4 linked regions of the Homo sapiens genome follow. The protein of the gene in region 1 interacts with the protein of each later gene in a pairwise test. Each region holds a gene or a part of one and is shown on either strand. Other genes may lie near its edges.

The links.
Region 2: the proteins of TMEM171 (region 1) and PRPF40A interact in binary tests that used the Homo sapiens proteins (3 or more experiments, as listed by UniProt).
Region 3: the proteins of TMEM171 (region 1) and SH3GLB1 interact in binary tests that used the Homo sapiens proteins (3 or more experiments, as listed by UniProt).
Region 4: the proteins of TMEM171 (region 1) and LAMP2 interact in binary tests that used the Homo sapiens proteins (3 or more experiments, as listed by UniProt).

Annotation. Positions count from the first base shown.
Region 1 is NC_000005.10:73,122,115-73,129,908, forward strand, and holds part of TMEM171 (transmembrane protein 171), read left to right. Parts: intron 1-1,191; 5' UTR 1,192-1,259; coding exon 1,260-1,899; intron 1,900-6,275; coding exon 6,276-6,417; intron 6,418-7,794.
Region 2 is NC_000002.12:152,708,214-152,716,007, reverse strand, and holds part of PRPF40A (pre-mRNA-processing factor 40 homolog A), read left to right. Parts: coding exon 1-13; intron 14-1,378; exon of another isoform or gene 1,379-1,410; coding exon of another isoform or gene 1,411-1,458; intron 1,459-3,640; exon of another isoform or gene 3,641-3,704; intron 3,705-7,794.
Region 3 is NC_000001.11:86,714,576-86,722,369, reverse strand, and holds part of SH3GLB1 (endophilin-B1), read right to left. Parts: intron 6,647-7,794; coding exon 6,505-6,646; intron 2,864-6,504; coding exon 2,735-2,863; intron 1-2,734. UniProt on the Homo sapiens protein: May be required for normal outer mitochondrial membrane dynamics. Required for coatomer-mediated retrograde transport in certain cells. May recruit other proteins to membranes with high curvature. May promote membrane fusion.
Region 4 is NC_000023.11:120,422,158-120,429,276, forward strand, and holds the end of LAMP2 (lysosome-associated membrane glycoprotein 2 isoform A precursor), read right to left. Parts: 3' UTR 6,470-7,119; coding exon of another isoform or gene 6,327-6,469; 3' UTR 3,991-6,326; downstream 1-3,990. UniProt on the Homo sapiens protein: Lysosomal membrane glycoprotein which plays an important role in lysosome biogenesis, lysosomal pH regulation and autophagy.

The sequences.
Region 1 (7,794 bases):
ATTCCACTTATACTATTCTTTCAAAGCCAAGTTCCCCCCTTCCACCCATTTTGTGCTTTATAACTAGCAGTTTTATTGGCTGCTTGTTTTTTAACTGAGTCTCAACCTCTTTGTGGAAGTAGGTGACACCATGGAGGAGGGTGAGTGAGAGGCCACACCAGCCTTTGGGTACCTGTCCACTCTGAAAATTGAGCTCCTGTTGACCTGCTGTGCAACACTTTCCAGGGTCATCCCAGATCCAAGCAACTGGGTCACCAGTCTGTGCTTGTTGAGAACCCAAGAACCATTTTGTTTTGTTTTGTTTTGTTTTTGGCAGGGTCTCACTCTGTTGCCCAGGCTGGAGAGTAGTGGCGTGATCTTGGCTCACTGCAACCTCCAGCTCCTGGGCTCAAGCAATCCTCCCACCTCAGCCTACCAAGTAGCTGGGACCACAGGCACCATGCCTGGCTAAAGTTTGTATTTTTAGCAGAGATGGGGTTTTGCTATGTCACCCAGGCTGGTCTCGAACTCCTGAGCTCAAGCAATCTGCCTGCCTCTGCCTCCCAAAGTGCTGGGATTACAGGCGCAAGCCACCACGCCTGGCCTCAAGAACCACATTTTGATAGAATCAACTTAAAAGTCCACCAAACCCACTGTGTTCCTGAACAGACTTCTTATTCTATTGAAATTGCTGAAATTGGGTCTTTTGTAGATGTAGCCTTAGAATAAAACATGAAATGGAAAGCTGCTGTAGTCTAAAACAGGAAATGGAAAGTTAGTTACTGAACTGACTTGAAAATGCTGAGAGCAGCTATGATGAAAAGTGGGGCATTTGCAATCAGAAAGAATCCCTGTGGTTCTTCCCTCATTCACCAGTGCTTTTTTCCCCAGGGAAATGAGTTTGTAAGACTCAGAAAAGGAAATGCCACACCCAGCTACTTTTGTTCTTTCAGTTTTTAAAAAAGATACCCTTAGATGTGTAGTAATTTAATTTCCTGTTTTGAATATCTTGTAAAATTACATATTTAGGAGTTTCTGAATGCTAGTTTATCTGACTCATAAACCAACTCATTGTTCTACAGCTTATCAGTTGTATAAAGTTCTACCCCCAAGGCCTCATTGTGGTGTGATTTCAGAAATGATCAGCAAAAAACCAGGGTGGTTCTGGAACACCTGTGCCCACGTTAATTTGGTGTTTGGTTGTGTTTGCAGAGCTGCTGAAATCTTGGAGGGAAGAAAACACATCCCACCCTGCCTCCGGGAAGGGGCCTCTCCTGGACATGTCTCCTGCAGCTGCTGCTGAGCCAGATGGGGACCAGCAGGACAGACACGTCAGCAAACTCATCTTCTGCTTCTTTGTCTTCGGCGCCGTCTTGTTGTGTGTGGGAGTCCTGCTCTCCATCTTTGGGTTCCAGGCATGCCAATATAAGCCCCTCCCAGACTGCCCCATGGTGCTCAAGGTGGCGGGGCCTGCATGTGCCGTGGTTGGGCTTGGGGCTGTGATCCTGGCCCGCTCCCGGGCGCAACTTCAGCTCCGTGCAGGGCTGCAGAGAGGTCAGCAGATGGACCCCGACCGAGCCTTCATCTGTGGAGAGAGCCGCCAGTTTGCCCAGTGCCTTATCTTTGGGTTTCTGTTCTTGACAAGCGGCATGCTCATCAGCGTCCTGGGCATTTGGGTCCCTGGATGTGGCTCCAACTGGGCGCAGGAACCGCTAAACGAGACAGACACTGGCGACTCAGAGCCCCGGATGTGTGGGTTCCTTTCTCTGCAGATCATGGGGCCCTTGATTGTGCTTGTGGGATTGTGTTTCTTCGTGGTTGCCCATGTTAAGAAGAGAAACACGCTGAATGCTGGCCAGGATGCCTCTGAGAGAGAAGAGGGACAGATCCAGATTATGGAGCCTGTCCAGGTCACTGTAGGTGGGTTGCTGTTATTTGCGTTCTTGCTTCTATCACAGTGGCTTTGCAGCAGGGTTTCACCAGCTGCTCTTGGTTCTCGTCTGGATTCTCTTTCTCAATTCTTCCATCTCTCACACATGTGTGTGCACACGCACACACCCCCATCATGTGTACATACACAATGGTGCTGCTGTGGGAAGCCCCGTAGGAACCTTGTATACATCTTTTCCCCCCCAGCAACTCTTTCCTACTTTGCAAAGCATTGGGATATTAAGTAGTGACCTTGACTGAGGTCACAGAGCAAATTAAGAGGAAAGTGAGAAGAACCATGAGGACAGCCTTGGAGCCTTCTGCCACCTTAGGGACTCACTAAGTGACCCTGTTACCCCTGTTATTCTCACACCAAAACCACATAGCATTTTAGTTGTGGGACACTTGGTTTCTCCTCCCAGGCTGTCACTAGCTGGCTGTCCTTGTAAGTCCTTAACCTCTCCTGCCTTGGTTTATGTCTCTATAAAATGAGCAGTGCCTCTCTAAGATTCCTGCAGCACTAACATTCTAGGATTCTGGATCTGTCTGAGTCCAGCAGTCTCCAGGTGTTTTGAGGGGCCTCTGCACTGTCTCTGTGTTGTCCTTCTTTTTTTGTGACATCATCCGTGGCTGCAGGGCTGAGGCAAAGCTTGGAAGCAGCGGGATGAACCAAGATGGAATATGACAGCACCTTTCTCCCGTGGAATGCCTACAAGTTCCTTTTGGGTCCCCCGGGTTCTACAGAAGAGATGGAGTGCCATTTCCCAGAGCCTGCCCCCTCAGAACAATAGCAGTAGCGTTGGCCTCAGCTTCACACAACCAAGGAAAAACCCCATCGCTGTTCATTGGCAGATCACTTTTTTTCAGTCTCCTACTTTTGAAAGAGTAAAGTTGTGAAACCACTGACATTTAAAAGGCTAGGAAAAGAGATCTTCAGAACAGAAACCATGGAGAGGACAGAGAGGGAATGTGACAAGTGAGATGCATCTCCTGTTTGGGGCTGTCTACTGGAAGCAGTGGAATTCACTGACTGCAGCCTGGAGGGGAGGAACTGGGTTGCTGGACTTGCATGGCACCAGCCTTGGAGAGGAGGGGCAGATGGATCTGCAGCCATTCCTTGTGTAGAGCCAGGGTAGATGCTCCCAGCTTATTTATTAATATATTTATGCATTAATATATTTATGGTGACAACACAAATATTAGTTATATATTCACAATAGCTAACACTTATATAGGGTCTATTTTTGTGCCAAACACCCATTTAAGTGCTTTATCATGTGCTCTTAAAGGTCCCCTGTGTGAAATTCATTCACACCTACAGCAATCCAAGGGGGCAGATAACGTTAGTACCTCCATGTTACACAGGAAGAAGATGAGGCATGTAGATATCAAGTGACTTGCCTAAGGTCACACCCTAGCAAGTGGTAGAGCAAGGTTCCAACCCAAGTGTCTGGGCACACCCACAGAATAGCCCTTGCATAGCACCCTGCCCAGGGCACGTGGGTGTGATTCCATTTTATCCTTCACCAAGTGTTCCTGGAAGTTATTACATGAAAAAAGGGGCTCCCTTTAATTTGATAGATGTTCTTAGTGTTCTTGAGGAACACCGTGGGGTACAAGTAAATATGTTCATCCAACGCTGCTATGCTTTCATCTAGTTGGGAACGGTTCGAGGGGAGTTTTGGGGCCCAGCCTTCCACCTGGTAGCTGGAATCAGAGTGGACAGAGCTGTGGTGCTGCTCCTGGTGTCCTTGTCCTGAAGTTGGCACTGCATGGTTTAAAATCTTTTCTACTTAACTCTTTAAGTCCCCATCAAACCTATGAAAATCTTGCATCCTAATTCCTCTCCTTTGATATTGTGGAATAGGGTTTACATTTTTAGAATCCAAGAAGCATGCTCTCCTTGTTGTGGGTACACTCAGTGCTATCCTGGATACACAGCAGGTATATGAGACAGCTCTCCTTGGAGGGGTGTATATGTTGTCTGCTCACAGAGGACATCAAGTTCTGAAAGACGCATGAAAGGGAACTCGCAGAGGAGAGGCCTCTTTCCAGGGAGAGCAGGTTGCAGGGTGTGGGCAGGCGGAGCTGCTGGGCCAAAGGGCTGGAGACCCTTGGAGGTAACAGGGTTACTGGAGCATATCCTTGTGTGTTTTTGAGAGGTGATTGGCCTGCCCTCAAGGGTTACTTCACAGGTTCTTTATTCTACAGTGTGTAATGGAAGTGAACACAACCCCAATTCCTCTAACCTACCAAGACCTTCTAAAAAAGTAAATGAGAATCTCAGGACCGCTATTATGCTTTCTCACCTTTAGATTAGCAAAACGTATTTTAAACTCTCATTGCCTTCTCCTTGGAGAAGGAAGGGGAGATGGAATTAATGCATTTTCTGAAGGGCTAAATTCCCTCTGGGAAATGATTGAGGCTGCTGTGGCTCATGAAGGGTAGAGAGTGGAGCCAGTGGCCAATTGCCTCTGTGGTGTTTCTTCATCATGCAAATCAGTGCCCTCGGCTGGTGTTGAGCTGAGAGAGTTGGCTCTGTGCTCCGCACTGTGTTCACTGCCAGATGCAAATCAGTCCATCTAGTCCTTCCTTCTATCTGTCCTGTGATGCAAGAACTGCCTGGCCTGCAGTTTACAGCTGTGGCGGCTGAGGTCAAGGAGGTCGCCTAGCTTGTTCAGGTTGGAACCCCCATCACTTTAAAGAATCCTATGCCACCCTAAGCAAGCATCAGACATGCTAGGAGTGTGAACCACTACAGGGAAGTAAAGCCCCATCTTCTTCATTTTTTCTGAACTGTTATTGCTATTGCCAGCTTCTCAGAGGCTTTCACCAGGCCCCCAGCAGTGGTGCTGCCAGAGCTCTACACTGTTCTGGTCCACTTGTGTGGTGCATTTTATATTGGAATCGGAATACAAATTAGAGTTTGCATCTGGTCCCTAGTTTCTCCTCAAAACATGAGGATGTATTCTGGAGTGAACAGTAGCCACAGAAATGCAAAAACCAAACTTCTTTGGGTTCAACCTTCATCTGTATGGGTGAAATTTTGGTAAATAACAGTTAGGGGCTGTAATATGGCTTACTGTCATTTGCTCAGGGGCTGAAACTACATTTGAGGAACAAGGCACTTTAGCCAACAGCTAACTTGTGAATTAAAGTTGTAGGCTGAAAACGAGAAAAGCTTTTTCAGCAGTAGACACCCCAGAGGAGGGAAAGGAGCTTGTTAGCAAACAATTCACAAAAAGGCTTGGTCTTAGACTTGCTACAAAATATAGACCTGCTTTCATACCATAATTGTCAGCACTCTGGATTCTGAAATGTAGGCCTACTTTTAAAAAATTTGTGGTAAAAAAAAAAAAAAAATATATATATATATATATATATAAAGCATAAACAATTTAAACTGCTTTTTGTTTCGTTTTGTTTTGTTTTGAAACAGAATCTCACTCTGTCACCCAGGCTGGAGTGCAGTGGCATGATCCTGGCTCACCACAACCTCTGCCTCCCGGGTTCAAGCAATTCTCCTGCCTCAGCCTCCCGAATAGCTGGGATTACAGGCGCCTGCCACCACGCCTGCCTGATTGTTTTTTCTTTGTATTTTTAGTAGAGACAGGGTTTCGCCGTGTTGGCCAGGCTGGTCTTGAACTCCTGACCTCAAGTGATCCACCCGCTTCGGCCTTCCAAAATGCTGGGATTACAGGCGTGAGCCACCACGCCTGGCTTTTTTTTTTTTTTTAAGACAGGGTCTTGCTCTGTCACCCAGGCTGGAGTGCAGTGGTACAATCATAGTTCACTGCAGCCTAGAACTCCTGGGCTCAAGCAGTCCTCCTATCTCAGCCTTCCGAGTAGCTGGGACTGCAGGCGTGTACTCCCACATCTGGCTAAATTTTTTCTTTTAATTTTTTTGAGATGAGATAGCGCTGTGTTGCCCAGGCTGGTCTCCAACTCCTGGGCTCAAGCGATCCTTCCTCCTCAGCTTCCCGAAGTGGTGGGATTATAGGTGTGAGCCACTGCACCCAGCCAAACCGTTTTTAAATGGTTTAGTGGCATTGAATACAGTCACAATGTTGTTCAACCATTATCATCATCAATTTCTGGAACTCTTCCATTATCCCCAACAGCAACTCTGTACTCACCAAACAGCAATTCCCACTCCCTTCCTCCTCCCGAACCCCTCCTAGCCCCTGGTAACCTAGTCTACTTTTCTATCTCTATACATTTAATGGGCTTACTTTTAAATTTTGGAGTTAGCAGCAGGTGTGTTGACCTTTTATATAGATGGGCCAAATATATAATTAATTTTGCTTTTGCTAATTTGCTTCCATTTATTACCCACCTGTTGTCAACTAAATATTGTTTTGCCTTAGGTGACTCGGTAATAATATTTCCACCCCCTCCACCACCTTACTTTCCTGAATCTTCAGCTTCTGCGGTCGCTGAGAGTCCTGGAACTAACAGTCTGCTTCCGAATGAAAACCCCCCTTCATATTACAGTATTTTCAACTATGGGTAAGAATTTCAATTTGAACTTCAAGAGAGGCCTGAATTCAGGCCACACTAGTATTAAGGCTGTGTGGTTCACCAGGAGGCATTCAAGTGTGAGTATCTTTTTTGCTGATGTTATGTCAGAATTAGTGTCTTGATATTAACAGTACCTTTGCCGAAATTTGGGCAGCACATAAGTTAAAAATGATAAAGTGATCATGCTGGGTTAATATGAAGCCTACTCCAGGCATCTATCTTTATGTGCTCCTAACAGGGGTGATACTCAGAATGTTTAACAACCCTTGCCGGGTGCTGTGGCTCACACCTGTAATCCCAGCATTTTGAGAGGCCAAGGTGAGTGGATCACTTGAGCTTAGGAGTTTGAGACCAGCCTGGCCAACGTGGCAAAACCCTGTCTCTACGAAAAATAGAAGAATTAGCTGGGGATGGTGGTAGGCACCTGTAATCCTAGCTACTCGGGAGGCTGAGGCATGAGGATCGATTGAACGCAAGAGACAGAGGTTGCAGTGAGCCTGTTACCGGCGGAGGGTGTCCACGTACTTTGTGTTTTGAACAAAGAACTGGACAAAATGCACAAACGAAGCAAGGAAAGAATGAAGCAACAAAAGCAAAATTTTATTGAAAATGGAAGTACACTCCACAGGGTGGGAGCAAGCCTGAACAGCTGCTCAAGGGCCCAGTTCCAGAATCTTCTTGGGTCCAAATCACCCCTAGAGGTTTCCCATTGGCCACTTTGTGTTCACCTCATGTAAATGAAGTGGTGGCCCACAATCCGTCTGATTGGTTGCAGAAAGCAGCCAATCAGAGGCTGAAGTGAAGTTACAAAGTTGTTGTCCTATGCAAATGTCTGATTGGTTGCAAAAAGCAACCAATTAGAGGCACTTTCAATTTCCCATCTGCCGAAAGGTGGGTGTTTGCAAAGGGAGTAGTCTTTGGTCCTTTTGTTACTCAGGGGTGGAAAGTTAGGGTTTTCCTTTCAATTTAGTTCTAGGAAGTCAGCGTGAAACGGCCGTAGATTCCCTGCCTCCACACCCTATTCTTCTGCTCCAAGCCGAGATCGCGCCACTGCACTCCAGCCTGGGCAACAGAGAGAGACTCTATCTCAGGGGGAAAAAAAAGAATGTTTAATGACCCACCAATCAGACTGAGCACCAGGACTGGGCCAGGAGGCCCCTGCTATGCTAGGCTTCACTGCTTTAGATCATGGAGAGGTGTGAGGGTCTCAGGGGATCCCCAACAGTTACAGAAGGGCTTTAGTACTCTGATGGCCGTGCTTGGGTGACTGGCTAAAGTCAGCCTGAGCCCCGATCCAACACAACTGGGCCTCTCCTTCAATATTCGCTCCTTCCCTGGGCCGCAGAGAATATCAGGTCAATACCC
Region 2 (7,794 bases), on another chromosome or scaffold:
ACCAATGGGACAAGTAAGACTGTTTTTGTTTTATTTTGCATTTATTTATTTGTTTTTGCCTCAGGTATTCTATCAAGATTTCAGAATCTAGGTCAGTAGTTATAGCTGTTTAATGATTAGTTTATGCCCGAATAATTTCAAATAAGCCAAATGTTAAATCATGACTGTAACGGAAATTTGAATAATGGAAAAGTCTTCTGAGAAATTTAAATAATGAAAAAGTCTTCTGAGAAATTTACTGATGACCTCAAAACTAAGAATTTTTTTCTTTATTATTTAAAAGTAAAGTGTGGATCCAGGCTTTTATTTTTAATGATTATTTTTTCAAGAATGCCAATTGAAGTTGATGGTCTAAGTAAATATTATCTGATACAGCAACATAACTGATTTTGGTAGACCATGTAAATAAATAGAATCTGAAAATAGCTATTGTTTTGGTTTAGAGCGAATTTTATTCCTGAAATATCTTCCTCTTTGTGTGTTGGAGGAGGGTGAGGGAGGGTGGGGAGTTTGTGCTCTATAATTCTGATTCTTCATAGGACAGTGCCAATAGGTAGTTCATTTTCCACTTATACTATTTTTTTTTAATGCTTGTTGCTTCTACACTCCTGCTTATGAGCTGTCCCTTCCATCTCTAGCATAAATTGTAAATGGACATTTTGTAGGAGTGATTTGGATCAAAAGGTTTTAATGCTGATTCAGTGATTTCGGTAGAACTGAGTTTCTAGAGAAGCATCCAAGAAAGGTAACAGGTTCAGTTACCATGAGTAATTTTGTGCTTCATGTTAAGTTCTATAATAGATCTTTAGGTGGCTGGGTTATTTCCATTTGAGTATTTCCATAAATCATCAAAAATTTAGGCTAACAAAATATTTTGGAAGCCAATTTCATGTGATCTTTTGCTAATTAGTACTGTTTGATAATTGTTTAAGCTTTCATGGTTAAAGTTATTGGTGAAATTGCAGTGGGAAAAGGAGCTTGCTATGTGTCTGTCTCTTTTTACTTAACCTTAAGAGTAGAAGGGCTTAATGTCCAGTGATTTTCCTCTTTTTTTTTTTAATTTGGAATATTGCCCTTAATTTTGTTAAAAAACAAAACAAAACCTTTATTCAAAGGCACCAGCCCCAAAAGATTCTGCTTGCAGGAGTTCTTTAAATAAAAGAGCCTTTTATTCTGTTACTCTAGAATAACACAAATTTTAAAACTCTCTAGGTGATGGAGAAACAACTTTGATTCCTCTTCTGTTTCTTTCCATCTCTAAGGAGCAAGGAGCTCTTCTTGTTTTCTTGGTAGAGCTGCTCTAACTAGATAATGAGCTTTAAAAATATTTATTCTTTAAATGCTCTGGTTCTTATTTAAAATTAGTTTCTTTCCACAGAAAGATAAAATAAAACAATTTGCTACTGCCAGATGCTTCTCTCTTTTCTGGGGCCTTCTGTTTCCATTGGGCCAATCAAGGTAAGTTTTGCAAGGGATTGACCTGCTTACCCTTGCTGTAATGGTGCTATTGCACTACCAAAACCAAGATACCAGCTAGTCATAGTTCTAGTTAAAAAAAAAAATGCAGATTTTATTTTTTAAAAGTACTTTCATGTATCTCATTGACATAAGCTGGTCACAGTTTGCTTTATGGCCCTTTCTCTTTAGCTGTATCAGTGACCATCTTTCTAGTAAGTTTACTTGCTACTCGGTACACATCCATTCAAATAACTGATTTTTTTGGTGTGGTTTTCTTCTACTTTTTCCTAGGCTAATATATGCCACGTGCCTTTAAGTAGACCTAATTATTTAGATGTTTAGAATTCTTCTCCCTCTGAAGGCTCCTGTTAGTATAATAAATAAATGTTTTAGTAGGAGTTATGCCCTGAAAGTCCCAAAAGAATCTCCGCTGTTTTTGTCAGAATTATATAATTCCCTTTTATCCCCTTAATATTTCACTAACAAATATGGGTCCCAAATCTTGGTAAAACAAATTCTTGTTTTAGCTTTATAACAGACTGGGAGAGCATGGATAATTTGAATTCTCAAATCAGAAATCATATTTGAAACTCTGTAAACATTGCTTTAAAAATTAAAGGTGATAATAAATAGGACAATTGATCCTTTTTCCTGCATTATTTCTTCTGCCACTCTTGGAAGTACTCAGGAGGAATAAGTGGTCAGAAGATAATTGAGAAGAAGCAGGATGTCTGTCTGTATCATTCACAGTAGTGACAGTTGGGAGGGTTCTGCCATGCAATTTAAAAAAGTCAGTTCACAAATTCTTTAGACTTTGGGACTGAAGGTTATAAAAACCTTCATGTGTTGACTGGTTTGCATGAACATCTCATGCTGGGACTAGCTAAAGACTAAAATTGGTGGCAGTCTTACTTGCCAAATAATTGTGGTCTTTGGAATGTTACCAATATGACATGAAACTGTAAAACTTGTTTGTAAAATAATATGCAGACTGGGTAGCATAATGATGTACGGAAGCCAGGGTTCATAATTTCTCAAATGCATCAAGCTATTTAGCTTAAAGAAGTGGTGTGTTCAAATTTTTTTTTTCTTAATTCATGAGATGACCTAGAGTGCCATCTCATGCATTTAGGCTGACTCTTAGTAGTAATAAATATTTGATGATTATCAAATTGAGCTTAATATTCTTTCAGGTTTATTTCAGTTTTCTATCTTGTAGATTAAATTTGCCTCTTATTCTATATAACTTTATAGGAAAGTCATACTTTTAGAGTTATAGGATCTTATAGCTGAAAGGGACCTTACAGGTTGTTTAAGCTTTAAATAATATGTGATTTAAGATGCTTTGAGGATCACTGGTTAAATGTTAGTAAAGAAAGATAAAGAATTTTCCCTGCTGGATGGCAGTACTCAAAAATTTCCCATTGGGAGGCTGAGGCGGGTGCATCGCTTGAGCTCAGGAGTTGGAGACCAGCCTGGGCAACATGGTGAAACCCCATCTCTACAAAAACTATTTAAAAATAAGCTGGGTGTGGTGGTGTGCGTCTGTCGTCCCAGCTACTTAGGGGGCTGAGGCAGAAGGATTGCTTGAACCTGGGAGGTCGAGGCTGCAGTGAGTCAAGATCACGCCTTGCACTCCATCCTGGGTGACAAAGTGAGACCCTATCTCAAAAAAATAAAGATTTTCTGTAGAGATTTCTATCAATAAAATTATGTGTGAGGCTGTCTTCTTCCTCAGTGTCCATAGTAAATACTGTTTTCATGTCTTTTGTGTTTTCTACACAAAGGACATGCAGGTCCTGCCATCTTTATCACAGATGATTATGCCTTTGCCCCAGAGTCATGCTAGCTGGCTCTTTTTTTTTCCTCCCTATTTGAGTCTTTATTTTCCTCTATCAGTGAGAAGAGTAGAGTAATTGAGTTAAGGTCCCTTTCAGCTCTAACATCCTATGATTCAGTTCAGATCATTTGATAAGAGTAGATATCAGATTTTATGGGATGATATGGAAAGAACAGAAAATTCCTTTAGTAATGCCTCCCTAATTCTATTTATTCAGTGCTTTTTTTTTTTGGTCTTTGGTCAGTAAACTGATAAATGAATAATTGCTTTTTACAAATGAGTTTGATTTTCTTGCTCCTATATTGAGTAAGGCTGGCTCTAATAGATCTTATTTTATTTCAGTTCCTGCTACCACATGAGCCCAAGTCGTCACTCTCCCATGCCTAGGTTATTCAACAGTTTTTGAGTTGAGTTGGTTTTCTTGCTTCAAGGATGCCCCCCTGCCCCCACAAATTTTAGATTTCAATGTGTTATCTCCTTGCCCAAGAATCTCCAGTACTTTCAGTGCCTATAACATAGTATCTAAATTCCACAGCTTAACTTTAAAGAACCTCCCCATAGTACATGTCAAAGCAGGATTCAAGGCTGCATGTCTTTACACTCCCTAATTTGAACTTAGGCTGGTCTTTTCACGGTGTCTTGAGTGATTATATTAGTTCACAACTTCAAACTTAGGCTGTTCTTCTTACCCTCCTGCCCCCAGCTCAGTATCACCATGAAGTTTGCTTTGCTTACCTATGTTGTACTATTTCAAGTCCTGCCTTCTCCAAAAGTTTCTCAAAAATGACTTTTGCCAACATATACCTCCCCTTCAGATTATTAAAGAAAATATTTGTAATCTACCCATAACTCTTACCGTTTCACTTATTTTGGCACCTAGTTATTGACTTGTTTTATGGTTTCTTAATTTGCTTTAATTTTCCAACAAGTAATAGATTGTAAGCTCTTAGAGGGCAGGGGCTATGTTCTGTACTTTTTAAGAAGCCTATAGGTGCTGAGCACAGTTCTTGGCACATCATGGGTGCTCAGTAAAATACTTGTTGAATGAATGAAACAAATACACAGGTATTCTTTCCTGCAGTATAAGCCCATAAGTCAGTCAGTGTTAAATGTGACTGTTTCCAGTGGTTACTTGTGACTTTACGTTGTTACTACTTATTCTTGTTTTTAGTGTCTGCCTCTTTACTCTTACTTTTTCATTTGACAAAAATGGAAGATAAATAAGATGAAATAAATAATTTTTGTTTGGAGAATAAAACTAAAATATTTCCATTTGCAGTCGACCCTCTGTATCCAGAGATTCAAGCAACTGCGATGGAAAATAGTCTTTAAAAAAGCAACAACAAAAAAATACAAATTTTTAAAAATAAAGTATAATAACTTTTATAGCATTTACATTGTGTAAGGTATTATAAGTAATGTAGAGGTAATGTAGAGGAAAAAATAACAAAGTAGGATATAGGCCTTGCAGAGAAATTTAGTGTATTGGTACCTTAGACTTACCTGACTGATTTGACAAATTTATTTGTTGCTGTTCCTTCTGAATTACCCTTCCTTTTGAGTAGCTACAGGATCCATGCCATTGAATTGGGCATTAGCCAGTGACAAAAAAGAGATAGAATTTTTGTTTTTTAGGTCATCTGCTCATAATTCTTGAATCTGGGTAACTTCTGGGTACATGTGGATGACTCAAGCAAGTACTTTTAAAAAATATCTTAACTCAGACCTAATGTCTGTAAATTCTTGACTCAATGTGGTTAGATTTTTGACAAATGTTAATAGTGAGACTACAAATACGTTTATTTTCATTATCTTTAGATAGCAGTTCATTTAAATATGAGCTCATCTATTCACAAACTTAGTGTGGAAAGATCTAAGGAGGACCACATCAGTTGAGAAGAATGACCGGCATCCCCTGCTCCCCTTTTGAAATTCACAAGGCATAATATTTACTAAAGTGATGAGAAGTCTTGCAGAAGCCTTTTACAATTTTTACTTAGTATTTCTGTCTTATTTGACCATCTCCCCCATAAATCTCCCACATAAAGCATTTGTTTTGCTTTGTGTAGCACATTGTATGAAATTAGCATTTTGTGAGAAATGCTGAATTAGGGCCCTTTATTCTTTTAGTTTGCTCTTTAGGAGAAAAAGGCAACATCAAAATAAGTTAGTGTTAACACACATATGCATAAACGAAACAGCTTGTGTAGTGCAATGAATGTATTCATTAGATAGTGGATCAAAAGAGGAAACAAGTCAATAGATTAACCTTTGATTTTTAAATTAGGCTTGTTGAATATCATGATAAGACTAATAGTAGTATTAATAGATAGTAAAGATTTGAGGCTAGGCACGGTGGCTCATGCCTGTAATCTCAGCACTTTGGGAGCCCGAGGTGGATGGATCACTTCAGGTCAGAAGTTTGAGACCAGCCTAACCAACATGGTGAAACCCCATCTCTACTAAAAATACAAAAATTAGCGGGACATGGTGGCGCACACCTGTCATCTCAGCTACTTGGGAGGCTGAGGCAGGAGAATTGCTTGAACCTGGGAGGTGGAGGTCTCAGTGAGCTGAGATCGCGCTATTGCACTCCAGCCTAGGCAACAATAGCAAAACTGTCTCAAAAAAAAAAAAAAAGATTTGGTACATATGCTACACCATAGCAGTGTACTAGGGATTTTGGGGTTTGTTTGTTTGTTTGTTTTGAGACAGAGTGTCTGTCACCCAGGCTGGAGTGCAATGGTGCAATCTCCACTTACTGCAACCTCATCCTCCCAGGTTCTCCAAGTAGCTGGAATCACAGGTGCGTGCCACATGCCTAGGTAATTTTTGTATTTTTAGTAGAGTCAGGGTATCGCCATGTTGGCCAGGCTGGTCTCGAACTCCAAGGCGCAAGTGATTCTCCTGCCTTGGCCTCCTAAAGTGCTGGGATCACAGGCATGAGCCGCCTTGCCCAACCTGTTTTTAACCTAGAGAAATAGGTCCATGTTGTGAAGGTTTATAAGTAGGAATTAATAGATGACATTCCAAGTAGAAATTATCAGTCTCATTCTTATTTTTTTCCTTACCTTTATTTTTCTTTTATTCAGTACACATTTAAGTATCTTGGGTGTGGTACCTAGTGTACAGGTGATGTATGCCCTGCTCTCAAGGAGGTCATTCCTGAGATGCCATTTTGAACTCATTTTTGTCTTCTAACTGCTGATTTGGTTGTTATGGTATTTCCGTACATTTGGAAATCTAGTGGCTATGAATATTTTATACAGGTTGAGTATCTGTAATCTGGAAACCAGAAATGCTCCAAAATCTAAAACTTTGAGTGCCAACATGACACTCGAAATAAATGCTCATTGGAATGTTTCAGATTTTTGAATTAGGGATGCTCAACCAGTAGGTAAAAAGGCAAATATCTGCAAATCTGAAAAAATCCCAGTCTGGTGTCAAGCATTCTGTATAAAGGCCTCTCAACCTGTATTTGCCTTCTTTCGCTGTCTGGTCAAGTACTTGTACATTATGTATCACTTATTTTAAGCAAGTTAGTTGTACTTAGCAGTTATTAGAGATGTGATTGTTGGAAGTGAATGTTCAGTGTTGCAAAGTGAAAATAGCACTCAGGCAAAAGTTTTCTCAGCAAGGCAGTTTACTTCTGTAGAAGGGTGTGTCTTGCAGATGGAGCAATCGTGAGATGGACAAGGGAGGGGAAGAGGTTCTTATTCTTAACACAGCTGGTCCCCACTGTTGTGTCTTTCCCCTACTGGCTAGGGTTGGACCGCACAATCTAAAGTGACCCAGTTGACTAATGTTTGAAATTGAACCCAGCTGTCTAGGCTGGAAGGGAAAGGCTATCCATTATGACACAATGCATGTCTAGGAGAAGGAAGAGTTTATCTGAATAAGGTGGAGGAGAGCTGAGGAAGGTTTTGGTGAGAGCTGTTTTTATAAGTCTTTGCACTAAACTATGAGTACAGGGTATGATACAGCATCCTGTAAGAATGAGCACACCTATAATGGCTGTAAGAGAAGGATTGAGGCTATGATTCCTTTTCATTTACTGAACTACCTCTCTAGCCATGTTGAGAAAGGGTTATCGACTCCAGAATTTTTAGTTAGTTCATTGGATAAAGCGGTAAGTCTTTGTAAGACGCTTATTATGTTCCCAGTGGGGTCAGTGTTGTTTGGGATAAAGGTACAACAGTGAATTTTAATCATAACACAAACATCCCCTATTTTGGCTAATATATCTAGGGCCATTCTGTTTTCTCAGGCCATCTGGCTAGTGGGCCCCAATTGTTCTGTTACCCTTTGACAGCATCCGTGGTGTAATTATAAACCACTGCTGATTATAATAAATGTAATTTATCCAATCTACGTTTTTATTAGTTGTCACTCACAAAAATATTGACTCAAATCCTGCAGCTATTTGATCTCGAGTTTTAAATTTAAGAGCATTCACATCTTGATATCCTGTCTCAGTTGCCAAAGTTTGTTTTAGG
Region 3 (7,794 bases), on another chromosome or scaffold:
TTTAAGAGTATGTGTCTAAATGAAGGAGACAAAGATGAACTTCCTATTGTAGCATAGATAATTGTACCAATTCTACCAATGGGACTAAAGAGGGCAAATATACCCCAAAATATTTACGGTCACAGTCGGCCCTCTGTATCTATGGGTTCTGCATCCATGGATTCAACCAACCACGATCAAAAACATTCAGAAAAAAAAAAAAAAGGATGGCTGAGGAGCCAGGCACAGTGGTGGCATATGTCTGCAGTCCCAGCTACTCCAAAGCTGAGGGAGGAGGATCGTTTGAGCCCAGGAGTTTAAGGCCAGCCTGGGCAACACAGCAGGGCCTGTCACTATTAAAAAAAAAAAAAAAAAAAAAAGATGGTTGCCTCTGTACTGAACATGTACAGACTTTTCTCCCTTGTCATTATTTCCTAAAAAATACAGCATAACAACTATTTACACAGCATTTACATTCAGATGATTTAAAGTACGAGGGAGGATGTGCATAGGTTATATGCAAACACTATGCCATTTTATATGACACCTGAGTATCCATGGATTTTGGTATCCTCAGGGTGGCGGGCCTGGATCCAATCCCCCATGGATATCGAGGGGTGACTGTGGTTATACTTATAAAAGTATAATGCTTCCAAGAGATCAAGTCACAATTTGTCCTGTTTCTACATCCTTGCAGTTATCATCTGAAGTATCTATAAGTAATAGTTCATAGTGATATCTTAAGTTAAAAAATCCATGCTTTTGCAATACATATACTCTGATACTTAAATAGGGCAAGTACAGTACAAAGTAGAGTAGAAAGAAAGGAAGCCCCAAGATCAGGGTTCCACTCCTAGTTTTACTTCTAATAAGCTTTAGCTCTAAGGATCTTAATCCCTTCATGTTAGGATAAGCTTTGATCTGACTGATAAGGAAGGTAATACAGATAGTAGTTAAGAGCTCCGTCACTGGATACAGACAGATCTTCATTTGAATTACTATACTAGCTGTGACTGTGGATTAATTATTTAACTTCTCCAAACCTGTTTCCTTGTCTTTAAAATGAAGGTAATATAATTTATCTTAAAAGCAGGATATAAATGAGAATTAATATGTAAATATATATACTATATAATGCTTAGCCCATGCCTGTGATACTCAATTTTTAGTATTAATTACTAATAAGGTAATAGGTTCACAAAGCCCAATTCTAATAACCAGGGTACATTCACTAGAATTACTAGAGGTGCAAACAGATTAAGCAGATTTAAAAGGGAAGAAAATCTAGAAGCCTTTACTAATGTTCATGCTCTGCTAAAACCTTCTTCAGCCTGGTGAAGGAAGGGGCTGCTGGGTTCCTTTCACATACCTTTATGATCCCAGCATCTAACTGAGCTTGGCACAAGTAGGCAATAAAACATCTGTTTAATGTATAACATTTTTCTAAAAATTAACAGTAAAATTCAGAAATAATTTTATTTTGAAGTTCTAAGCATTTTCAAACTTAAAAATTAGATTTTGAAGAACACAATGTAGAAGTTTCAAAGTTGTGTACCTAAAAAAGCCTGTCAATGGATTAGTGGCATTCAACAATATTTAGGTTATTTCTTTCTGACATAAAGATAACTACTAAAGCTTAAAATTCATTTAATCCTAGAATTTATAAACCATTCTGTAAATCAGAACTATGTGTAGAAATTAATTTAATCTACCTACCATTTCATATCCAAAGACCAGTATCTTGCAGATGTATAAAGAGAATTATTATTAGACATAAACAACAGGAAAAGAAGCTACTGAAATCTGTAACAGTCTCATGTTATGAGAAAATTAGAGTGACAATAAAGATGTGTATGTAACTTTGAGCTTCAGGGCTATACATTTAAAGTCTGTACAGCAACTAATAAAGCGAGTGTAACTAAACCACGGCTATAGAAAATTTGAAATACATAAGAGAAAAACAGAAATGAAATGTAATCCAAATATCCAGAGATAACAATTGTTAATATTTTTTGGTTACTGACATTACTGCAAAATTATAACAAAAGCACTGATTTGTTCAAGAACTACGTGCCAAGTACCTTTAACATAAAATAAGCCCTAAGAAAGCTTTTTTAAAAATGAAGAGACATATGCAAACAATAATTGCAATATCACAAGTATTATAACATAGGTATTGTAAGATCACTGGGAGAACAAGTGAAGAATTCATTAAACTTTTTAGAACTAAAAAAGATGTGAATTCTCTGAATAACTAAATATATGCTTGAATATATTAAATATTACATTTAACTGTATATATTTGCCTATATTTCTCACTTCATCAAAAATTTTTAACATAAATTTGAAGTTAAAACCAATTCTACTACTATGTTTTTTTTTTTTTTTTTTTTTTGAGACAGAGTCTCGTTCTGTGGCCCAGGCTGGAGTGCAGTGGTGTGATCTTGGCTCACTGCAAGCTCCACGTCCAAGGTTCACGCCATTCTCCTGCCTCAGCCTCCCAAGTAGCTGGGACTACAGGTGTCTGCCACCACACCCAGCTAATTTTTTGTTATTTTTAGTAGAGACGGGGTTTCACCATGTTAGCCAGGATAGTCTCGATCTCCTGACCTCATGATCCGCCCACCTCAACCACCCAAAGTGCTGGGATTACAGGTGTGAGCCACTGCACCCGGCCTACTAATATGTTAATGACATCTCTAATAAATCTAAACATAAAGATATCCCTTATTAGAACTTTTTGCATTTCACTTACCATAAGCTGTTCCTGGGCCAAACTCAGTCCCTGCATCAATCATATATTGTCCCAAAAGTTCTGGGTTGTTTATACGACTTGGAGCTTTTCTATCCAGTTTCTCATAAACAAATTCTTCTATCCTGGCATCTAGGAGAAAGGTTAAAATTACCAATGATTTCTAAAAAGCAAAACTAATTAGAAGATTGTTTTTTTCCCCCATCAGCAGCCATTTATCATCTCCTAAAGTTAGCATTCATTCAAGCACATATCTTAATAAATAATTTTTTAAATTTTATGTTAGACTATTATATAACTAAAAAATTATATTTTAGAAATTTGATAAAATATCTTGGCACAAAAGCATTTTAAAATAAAATAAAATTATTATTTGAGTATTCTACAAGATTTTAAGTTCCAGAAAAGGACTGATTAATTCACTTAATATTTATTGAAGGTGTCTTTGCCCTGTTTGTAGCATTTTAACTCTAATTTTTACTCTGAATGTACATTCATAATTTCAAAATCAGGATTTCTGGCTAGGAAAATACAGATATAAAGTACCTGGAAGAACCAAAGACTTACATCTGACAGCTTTAGCATGAGCATTTGCTCTCTCTTTTTCTTGCCTAGAGTCTAAATATAGACACAGGCGCTTAAGGCATAGAACAATCCAGGCTTGGAATAGTCTACAGACAGATCAGCAATATGATGCCTTGGCTTTAGTTTATGTTTAAAGTATACAAGTATATCTCTGAGCATGCATTCACTCAAAAGATTTCATCATTAAAAATAAGTTTAAAATACGAAAGGTTAAAGCAATAATAGAACATTAGAATAAATGGAAAGGGGAAAAAAACAAAAGCTGAATAAACACTTGGTTAGCAAAATGCTTAAGACCAAAGATATTAACATTTACAATGCTGTCCAACCTAGAGGTATTTCAGGACAAGTGAAAAAATGGCTTAAGTTTCCAGAAACAACGATTAAGCATAAATTGAAGCTAAGTCAAATAGGTTCCCTCTAAGTACCTCACATAGATTCCTACGCATGCGGAAGTTTCACACAGTGCACTGAAAATTTAAAAAATGAGCTGAACCAGTAACAGAAACATTTCAGGAGTTGGTAAAAGGCTTAGTTATAATACATAAAATAGAGTATAGCAATGATACTTGCTTTTGTGGTAGATTCTAGTACAAAATCAGAAGTTTTAAAGCAGAAATTAAATACCTTTAAATAGTTAAAACCAAAAAGAGCTTTTTAAAACATAACCATTTAGAAGATACTAGTTAAATTTCAGAACTTCATTTTGGCCCGGTGTGGTGGTACATGCCTGTAATCCCAGCACTTTGGGAGGCCAAGGCAGGTAGACCACTTGATGTCAGGAGTTTGAGACCAGCCTGGCTGACATGGTGAAACCCCGTCTCTACTAAAAAAAAAAATACAAAAATTAGCTAGGTGTGGTAGCGCATGCCTGTAATCCCAACTACTCGGGAAGCTGAGGCAGGACAATCACTTGAACCCAGGAGGCAGATCTTGCAGTAAGCAGAGATTGTGCCACTGCACTCCAGCCCAGGTGAAAGAGTGAGACTCTGTCTCAAAAAAAAAAAAAAACAGCTTTGTGTTTTGACTCTGATTCTTAATTTTGACTGCTTTTCCACCTATCTGGCCAAAAGTTTAAAATGGAATCTTATGCTGACTTCGTTCAGTTAATAAAATATTTGGAATACTAATAAATGTTTAATTTCAATAGGTTATAATAAAATCTTAAATATGCAGGCAACTCTGCTACAATGTAATATGTATTTCTGCATAACGTATTTTTGAAAAACCCATTTCCAGAAGATCATACATTGAAAACAACATAGGAATTACAAGAAAAGGAGTGTTAGGTTTGGCTGCTCAAAACCTATGTAACTTAATAACCAGAGCACAGGCTGGGCATGGTGGCTCACACGTGTAATCCCAGCGCTTTGGGAGGCTGAGGCGGGCAGATTACCTGAGGTCGGGAGTTCGAGACCAGCCTGGCCAACATGGAGAAACCCTGTCTCTACTAAAAATACAAAAATTAGCCGGGTATGGTGGTGGACACCTGTAATCCCAGCTACTCTCAGCAGGCAGAGGCAGGAAAATCGCTTGAACCCAGGAGGTGGAGGTTGCAGTGAACCAAGATCACACCACTGCACTCCAGCCTGGGTGACACAGCAAGACTCTGTCTCAAACAAAACAAAACAAAACAAAACAAAAAAACCACAGCACAAACAAAAAACAAAAACAATTATTACGACTTCCTGGCACAAAACAGGGGCAGGAGGAAATTGTATTTTATTTCCCTGTTTACCAGTTGTGAATGAGCTTATTTCCCATTCAGAAAAATATGTTTAGAACAAGGGGAAAAATGTCTATTACTTTTAATAAAAGTGCCAGAGTGTAGAATTTAAATGGCCTTAAATGAATAAAAAATATTACATGGTGTCCAAAGACATTAGGACTCACTCAAAGTGCAAAAAGCTTATTTTATTTCCAACTTTTATTTTAGTTCAAGGAGTACACATGCAGATTTGCTACCTGGGTATACTGAATGATGCTGAAGTTTGGGGTACACATGAACCTGTTACCCAGGTACTGAGCACAGAACTCAACAGTTAAGTTTTTCAACCAAAAGGTGTATTTAAAAAGTCACTACTATTTAACTAAAATGATAGAGAACTGCTAATATTTATATAGTGCTTGAAGTTTAAGTTAGTATCTAAAAGTAAGCATATGTCATATCACAACTTGGTCCCAAACAAGTTGGGGAAAAAAGAAGGAAAGCATACATTGTACCTTTGTTCTTCAGTTTTGATATGCAAAGCTCACAGTGAAAAGACTGGATGTTCATACACCCGGTTCTAGTCCAATTTCCACTTCTAATTAGCTATGCTACATTTGACAAGATGCTAACTCATGAGTTTCATTCACTAAACAATTATGCACCTTAACTGCAAGATTATTGAGTTGACTTATCTGAAAATCTCATAGTTGTCTGAAGATGAAATGAAATAATTTATGTGAAAATGTAAAACTTAAACATAGGCGGGGCGCAGTGGCTTATGGCTGTCATCCCAGTACTTTGGGAGGCCGAGGCAGGTGGATCACGAGGTCAGGAGTTCGAGACTAGGCTGGACAACATGGTGAAACCCTATCTCTACTAAAGACACACACACAAAAAAAAATTAGCTGGGCGTGGTGGCACATGCCTGTAATCCCAGCTACTTGGGAGGCTGAGGCAGAAGAATTGCTTCAACCTGGGAGGTGGAGGTTGCAGTGAGCCAAGATCACACCATTGCACTCCAGCATGGGCGACAGGGCGAGACTCTGTCTCAAAAAACAAACAAACAAACAAACAAACAAACAAAAAAACACACCAAAAACTTAAACATAAAAAATGGTACCTACTTAAGCAACTATATAACTTTGTCTTAATTATCTAGGGACAATTCTTCCCTAGATGAAAAAGGAAAACATATTTATATACACAGCTGCTCATAAATTAAAATTCAAAGTCACTGCCTAAAATTGAGATTTTTTACAAGGATTCTATAAAAGACTGAAAAATATCATTTTAAAATTGGTTAGGTACATAGCTGTTTATCACTTCCTCTTCACAAAAGCACACACAAAAAAACCCACTGACCTTGAAGCTACAATAAAAAAATCCTATGTTTTCAGATGGCCATTAAAACTTTTTTTTTTAACATTTAAAAACCCACTAATAGTACTTAAGGTACACAAGAGGTAGAGTTTCTTACTTGGATTTGGCTGCAATAACACTTCAGTTTGTTTCATTATTTTTTCTGTCCATATTTTGGTACATTCAGCTTTGCTAAGGAGGTTCTCTAAGTGAGCATCCAATTCTGTCTTCTCAGCCTGGCCAAGCTTTTCTTCTGTGAACTGTTATTGATTGTAAAACAAAAATTAAATATACTGCAAATAAATTTTAGGGAACCATATCAATAAGTAAAAAGCAAATTCAAAGCTAAACAATCCTAAACATACAAATAACCATGCTCCAGCTTTGTAAGCCATTGCTTATGAATACTTTTTTTTGCTCCTATGGTAATTTATCCATACTTCTTTTGTGGATGACCCTACCTTACAGTCATCACATACCCTTAGTTCTGCTAAAATGTATGGTGTGAATTCTACAGAAAACCTAAGTATACTTCTTGGTATATAAAGCATGCAACTATTTCAACTACCTATCCTAGGTAGACTAGGATAACGGTAAAGAGTAAGAGCTTTGAGTCAGTTGAATCTGAATTCAAATCTTAACTTTGTTCCTTGCTGTGTGAGCTGAGCAATGTATTGAATATTTTTTCTTTAGTACCCTCTATTATAAAAGAGAGACAATACATATTTTATAGTGTTTGGGGGATTAAGTATGATTGTGTATGCAAATCACTTTGTTTGGTGCCTTGTAATTATTAAGTTTTGAAAGAGCTGTTAATGTTTATTGTGGTTTATGTCTTATTAGCACTTTAATCACACCTAGTTAGATAAATAGTTTCCCAGAACATACCATAAAACCTGTCATTTAAGCTGCTGAGGATATGTTCCAGCAATTTATTTATAGACTAACTTTTGGAACATATCCTATTCATACTATGAAGACATCTTTTAAAGGTCATAAAATGTGGTTAAACGTACTCAATGAATCAATTTTTATTATTGAATATACTGGTATTTGAGAAAAGGTAGCACTGCCTATATAATAATAAAGCAGTAAAAAGATTCTGTGTAGATCTACAGCCTTCTGGATACTTTTAATTAAACATTAGAGGTGATGACTCAAGCTGTTTATCATGCATCATTTTCCTCTAGAATATGTGGCTTCCTCCCATCTTAACACAGGTATATCACTAGCATTAATTCTGTGCTCAGTAATGACTCACTTCTGGCTGACAAAACAGTGTTCACCTTGCCTTTCTCTCCTTTCGTTTCTCAAAAATCTCGTTTGCTACTCTATTTTCTGAGTTTTATTGTTTCTTTCAGCATCCTTCTTCTTGGTTTAATACTTTCAGGTTATTATCAACACCTTA
Region 4 (7,119 bases), on another chromosome or scaffold:
TGTTTACTAGGGAGATGGAACATTTTTTTCAAGTTGCTTATCTATTTGCAATCCTTCTGGCATGACTTTGCTATTCATGTCCTTATTCCAGCTTATTCAGGGAATATTCATCTTGTTTGTATTTATTTGATAGTAAAAATATCACCTTAACTCTTTGTTATATTTAAGATTGCAAATACTTTCCTTTGTTTGTAGTTTACCTGTAAATTTGTGTCTGGTAGCATTTTAGTGGTCAGATATATTAAATGTTTTTATATGGAAATCTTTTTTTCCACTGCCATTTCTTCTTTTTCTTCTATTCTTAGGAAGGTCTTTATTTTGAGATAAAATAAACAGCCATTATATTTGATTCTATATCTTTTATAGTTTTTTTTTAAAAACTTAACTCTAATTATCCTTGAATTTATTTTGGTATTGTGAGGTAGGCGACTAAGTGTATTTTCTCCCAAATAACTAACCTAGTATCTTAGTATCTCAGCATCATATTTTTTCTAATTTATTTTTTTGAGACAAGGTCTCCCTCTGTTGCCCAGGCTAGAGTGCGGTGGCATAATCATGGCTCACTGCAACCTCAAACTCCTGGGCTCAAACAATCCTGCCACCTCAGCCTCCTGGGTTGCTGGGAATACACGCATGTGCCACCACGGCCAGCTAATTTTTTTTTATTTTTTATTTTTTGTGGAGATAGGGTCTTGCTATTTTGCCCAGGCTGGTCTCAAACTCCTGGCCTAAAGTGATCCACCTGCCTTGGCCTCCCAAAGTGCTGGGATTACAAGCATGAGCCACCATGCCTGGCCCTCAGCATCATTTTTAAACGTTCCATTCTTTCCCCACTCATCTGAAAACAACATCCTTATCAAATACCAAATATATATATATATATATATACACACACACACGCATACTGTATATACATAATGTATATACACATACACGTACATACTGCTGTATATATTTGTGTGTATACTGTGTCTTGTCCTTTGAACTGTTGCTCTATTCTTATACCCACCTAACACCTGATTCTAGCTTTCTAATACATTTTAGCAAATGCAGTGCACGTTATTATTCATTATTCATTTTTCCCTAAACTTTCCTTGTAGTCATCACCCATGTATTCTCTCAGTTGAAGCTTTATAATCTAATTCTGTATTCCTTTGAGTCCAAGATGTGCTTCTTGCAATTGGATTCTGTGAGACTTACCCCATAGCTTCACAATTCATTCTTTTTTTCTTTTCTTTTCTTTTTTTTTTTTTTGAGGCGGATCTCGCTCTGTCGCCCAGCCTGGAGTGCAGTGGCAAGATCTCAGCTCACTGCAAGCTCTGCCTCCCGGGTTCACGCCATTCTCCTGCCCCAGCCTCCCAGGTAGCTGGGACTACAGGCGCCCACCACCACACGTGGCTAATTTTTTGTATTTTTAGTAGAGACGGGGTTTCACCCTGTTAGCCAGGATGGTCTTGATCTCCTGACCTTGTGATCTGCCCGCCTCAGCCTGCCAAAGTGCTGGGATTACAGGAGTGAGCCACTGCGCCCGGACTCTTTTTTTCTTTTTAACCCAGTCTGAGTAGATTTCTGTTCCTTAAGGTTTTATCTCACCTTACTCTCTCTCTCCACTTCCTCTTTCTATGATATTATCTGAACAGCTGACATCTGTCATCTTTAGAAAGAAGTCCAGATTAATATAAATAAAAAGCTAACATTGGCCGGGTGTGGTTGCTCACGCCTATAATCCCAGCACTTTGGGAGGCTGAGGCAGGCAGATCACTTGAGGTCAGGAGTTCGAGACCAGCCTGGCCAACATGGTGAAACCTTGTGTCTACTAAAGATACAAAAACAGACAAAAATTAGCCAGGCGTAGCAAAAGGGTCAGTATGGCTGAAGTGAATACAGGAAAGTAGTAGATAAGGAGGGAAGGGCATGGGGCTTTCGCAGATTATGGCTGGAAACTTTGCAGGTAAAGATTTCTTGAAATCGGCCATGCACACAGTGGCTCACATCTGTAATCCCAGCACTTTGGGAGGCCAAGGCAGGTGGATCACCTGAGGTCAGGAGTTCGAGGCCAGCCTGGCCAACACAGTGAAACCCCGTCTCTACTAAAAATACAAAAATTAGCCAGGCGTGGTGGCTATCCCAGCTACTTGGGAGCTACTCGGGAGGCTGAGGTATGAAGAGTAGCTTGAACCTGGGAGGCAGAGGTTGCAGTGAGCCAAGATCGCGCCCCTGCACTCCAGCCTGTGCAACAGTGAGACTCTGTCTCAAAAAAAAAAAAAAAAAAAAATTCTTGAAACCCTTCCCAAAAGGCCTTAGATTTGGGAATAGGAACTGTGTATTAATAAGGTTCAGAACCACCTGGCAAAGATAGTTGAGTGTCATGGTTACAATGCGCTTAAAGCTGAGGGATGAAGGGAAGGGGTATGAATGGTATTAAGGAAAGTGAGAAGAGAGACAGTTCCATTTAGTTTCTTAAACACACTAATGCACAGTCAAAATGATTCATGGTACAGAAGAGTTTGAGAGCAGAATGACAATGATATGTGATCAGAATAACTAGATGAGGCTACCCTGAAAAAAGTGACATTCGGGCTTAATATTACTGATGAGGTACAGTGCAAACTGGCCTTGGTTTTGATCTTCCAAAAGGCATGCTGCCACAACATCCATCTGCCCCACAAGTGGGCTGGATAAAACTCAAGTTATTTTAAGAATATTGAAGAATATTTATAAGGCAACTACATACAAGATAGAAGAGTACAGAAGTCAGATTTCTGTAACCATTTAATGTAAGGCATGTGCTTTAAAAAAATCTATTGCTTCTGCAAAAGGCAGATGTATAGTGGTTAACTGCATGGTCTTTGGCGGGCAAACAGAACTGGGTTCAAATGTCCATTTTGCCACTTAATCCTGTGTGACTTTGGTTAAGTAACCAACTCAAGCCTCAGTTATCCCATATGTAAACTGGAAATGATACCCCCAACCTCAGAGAGTTGGTGTATTAAATGAAATAAGGTGTTTAAAGTGCACAGCACTGTAACTGCTCAATAAAATTATGGATTTTTCCTACTAAAGATGCATTGTATGGCAAGATTTCTCCTGTTCATTATGCATACCTCTTGAAATTAAAGGGACCCAAACTTACACTGCTATCAAAATACATGCAGACAGTAAAAACAAAGGAAAGGAAAAACATTTCATCAGAATTCTAAAGGCAGTTCTGGCATTCAAAAAGTATACACATTGAAGTTAAAAAGATGACCCTCCAAGTTGACTTTTTAGATACACTGTAACCCTCACAGCAACATATATCGAACCACTCTTCCTAATTATCAGTCAACTTAAAGTGCTTCTTTCAGAGGCCTCATGAGGTGGCAGTTATGAAGGCCATTTTTTGACTTAATTACAAGCTATTAAACGTCTTTCAGAAAATGAAACCCTATTATTCTGGAACTATGGAGGGAGCCAATGTCTAATTCCTTCTCCCACCAAAAATACCTCTCATGTAAAAAGGAGTATGTTTATGTATGTGTTGTTGTTTTATCCAATTATATAAAAATTAAGCATTAGACTAGATTGTAAGGAATTTAAAGGAAATTCACAAAATGGATAGCTCCTCCCCTTGCCCCACCATATCCCTGAGGTATATCTCACTCAGAATGAAATGAACTTCAACAATTAGTATAGTTCATCAATGCAGACAGACATACGCGGAAAGTACGTTTGTTATGATGTTCTTACATTTGTTAGATTTCCATATTTTGTTTTTGATGTTTTCTTGTAATTTCCATGACTAAGTAGGTCCCCCTATTTGAGGTGTCTGTACTAAAGGTTCTGTACTAGTGCCTTCCTAATGACGGGACTTGGTTAAGTTGCAGATCTATGAGATCCTATGATTCCTGTTGACAATCCAAGAGACTAGAATTCAAGAAACTTAGATTATACAATTAAGTCTAAGCTCTTAAGGCTGAGCATATGGAATAAAAATGAGGTTATCCATAGTGGTATGGAATGTATGATCTTTATTAATTTTTAATCCATCAATCTAAAATCACACATACTAGATCAAACAGAAGTACCACAGTATGCTTTATTTTGCAGGTATTAATTGGTTCTCTAAATCGATACATCCAAAACTTTAGTTAGCAGCAAGCATCAGTTCTTCCAAAGCAGCTTAGGTGAAAAACAATTGTTTACATTCACCAGTTCAAAGTCGTACTGTCTGATCCACTGTTGTATTGACATAAAATTGAACTCAGTAGGCAAAGCTAATTGAACACTCAGCTCATAGATTTTGAGCTTCCTTTATCTTATTGGAGTTGAAGCAGTTTTTAACCCTCTGTTAATATTCTCTATTTTAATTCTCAAAGAATTAAACACACATATTTTCTAATTAATTAAGATAGAGCCATGATAACTATTGAGGAATTAGTGATATTAGTCTCATACCCAAAAGGTAGAACACTTTTAAATGAACCCATAATTTTGAATGTATCTGAATTTCCAGTTTATATGCTTAGCAAGGTCACAAGCTGATTTTATTAATCTGGCTTCTAGATAATCATCTCAAAAATATGTATTGAAACAAAGCCACTGTTTTTTATGATGACATCATTTTAACCAAATGCTTTTATAACAAATAAGCAGTTGTTCTCAAAAGAGAACATTTTAAAAGAAAACATTCTTTACATACTTAGCAAATAGAGGAGAGTGTGAATCTGTATGTCAGAGCTATAGAGTTCTAGAGGAGTTGTAGTTGAGCAATCTAACTTTCTACTCCAGTTTTTGAGATGTACATGTTTTTGAGATGTACATATAGAGAAGGCAGTAAAGAAAGATCTTGATAAATTTTCTTTAACAAAAATTTGTAATTCCAGTTATTGGCAAAGGGTTCTGGCATGAGTTAATGGCAGCAATACAGTGGTGAGCTTCTGCATTGTGCTGAGAGGTAGATTGGGACTTAATCCTTGGAATGAATAACCAACTCACTTTATTTAAGGTTCAGGCTTAATTTTTTTAATCCAAAAAAAATTTCTGAAGTGAAGGCAGATCTTTGGGAACTTTTGTTTTTAGTTAAATGTAGAGATAAAATAGCTTGATAAAATAAACATCTGCCTTATACTAATGACAGGTGTACAAAGCAGCCATTTGAACCCTAGACAACTTCAACACTGCTTCCAAATAAAAGGGCAATTCAACAGCTGAACCAATCAAGCAGACACAGGGATGAGTGGTCTCCAGTACCTTACTCCAGAAGCCGGAGCCATTAGCAGTCCCTACAGGGATATAAGTCTATATCAAGATCAACAAATGTACAGAATAATCTTAGTCCAGCTTTGGCTAGGCAGGCATCTGACTGATGACATATCAGGGCCCACTAACCTCTAGAGTAAGCACTTGTTGCTGTGAGAAAAAAGAAATCAATATATTAAAAATATCAACTAGAGCATATTCACATAGGGAATGGGAGAGTGCAGGAGGCACACAAACAAAGTATATAGAGTTTTTGTTTTCAGTGCAGGATAAATGAACCTTCTTAACAAGTTAAGGCTCTGAGGGAAAAAAACTTTCTAAACCATAACCTTAATAAACCATAACCCATACAGGTGTTCCAAATCAACACCTTTTTTAAAAAAAGCTGGAGGTCTTACTTCATCCTTCAGTATAAATGTCAAGTCTGAGATAATCAGTATATTCCAAACTCTAGAACAACAACAACAAAAAAAGAAATCTCCTTGTTAAAATATAGTAGCTATTAACAGTAATGAAGAAGACAGCCAAACTTTTGCTATTAAATACAATATCATGAAGCCATTTCTTTCTTAACTAACAGAAAAATACAGATTTAAATAATGCTGATCAGGAGGTGGGGAAAGGAAGTCTTATCATGAACCAAATTTCGTGTCTGCCACCAATGAAAATGAATCCACTATGTTCTTGAATTTATTTCCTGAAGCAAGTTAAATTCTTTAACACCTTTGATTTTGCAAATAACATCAAAGTAGTAAAATATAAGTAACTGTAACATATAAAATTACACATCAGCAAAAATGCTTTCATAATTGGATCCAGGGGCTTAAAATCATTATTTACTTAAAAAATTCTAAGCCACAATTTTTCTTTTAATTATACTTTAACAAAGGAAGAAAAAAAACAGAAAAAAATTGGTCCTAATATATTTTGTCTTAAATAAGTGTACTCATGCCCAAGTTAGCTAGGAACTCACTGAAGTTAGTCTGCATATCTTAAACAATCTATTGCACAGCATGTCCTGGCTTTTAGCCAATGGAAACGTAACTTCTAATTGAAAAAAACAAACAAACACTAGATTTAACTGATTACACAGACTGATAACCAGTACGACTTTTCCTTCTTCCAATCATATAAGAGATAAAGACAACAATTATAAGGAAGCCCAAGGCCACACCCACTGCAACAGGAATAAGAAAGTTGAGGTCAGAGTCAGCAGAACATTCTTCAGCTGTTAGAAAAGAACAGACAGCAAGGAAAGGAAATTAGCAAAGAATGCAATTAAGTAGTAAAAAGCATGCAAGAAACATGCATTTTGAAAGTGTACATAGCTTAGTTTTTTATAGCATTACCTCTATTTTCTTATTTGCTCAATATCTCATTATCACTTTATCTAAAATCACACGAAATTCCTCAGTACGAAAAGCAGAAGGTAAGGGAAGAATGGGAAGGGTCCAAAATAGAGAATTGCGCTTGCCTAATATGGGAAGACTTTAGGTTTGATTATCTAATGACACTGGGTTAAGGAGCCATCATCTACACTTAAAACCACTGCCTGTGTATTTCCCTACTCTCTTTCTCTTCGTCACACCTATAATTAAAGTATAAATAAGAATTCTGTATAAGTAATAAAATTTAAGTTAAAAAAGACTTAGGATCAAGAATGTAGTATATATATACATATATATGTGTGTGTATATATATGTGTATATATATGTATATGTGTATATATATGTGTGTGTGTATATATATGTGTGTGTGTGTACATATATATATATATACACACACACACAATTATTTTTAGCTGAGCGGTGGCCTGGAAGAATAACAGCAGTATCTAATGCGTTGCAGTCCATTCCACCGAACCACCAGGAAAGCAAC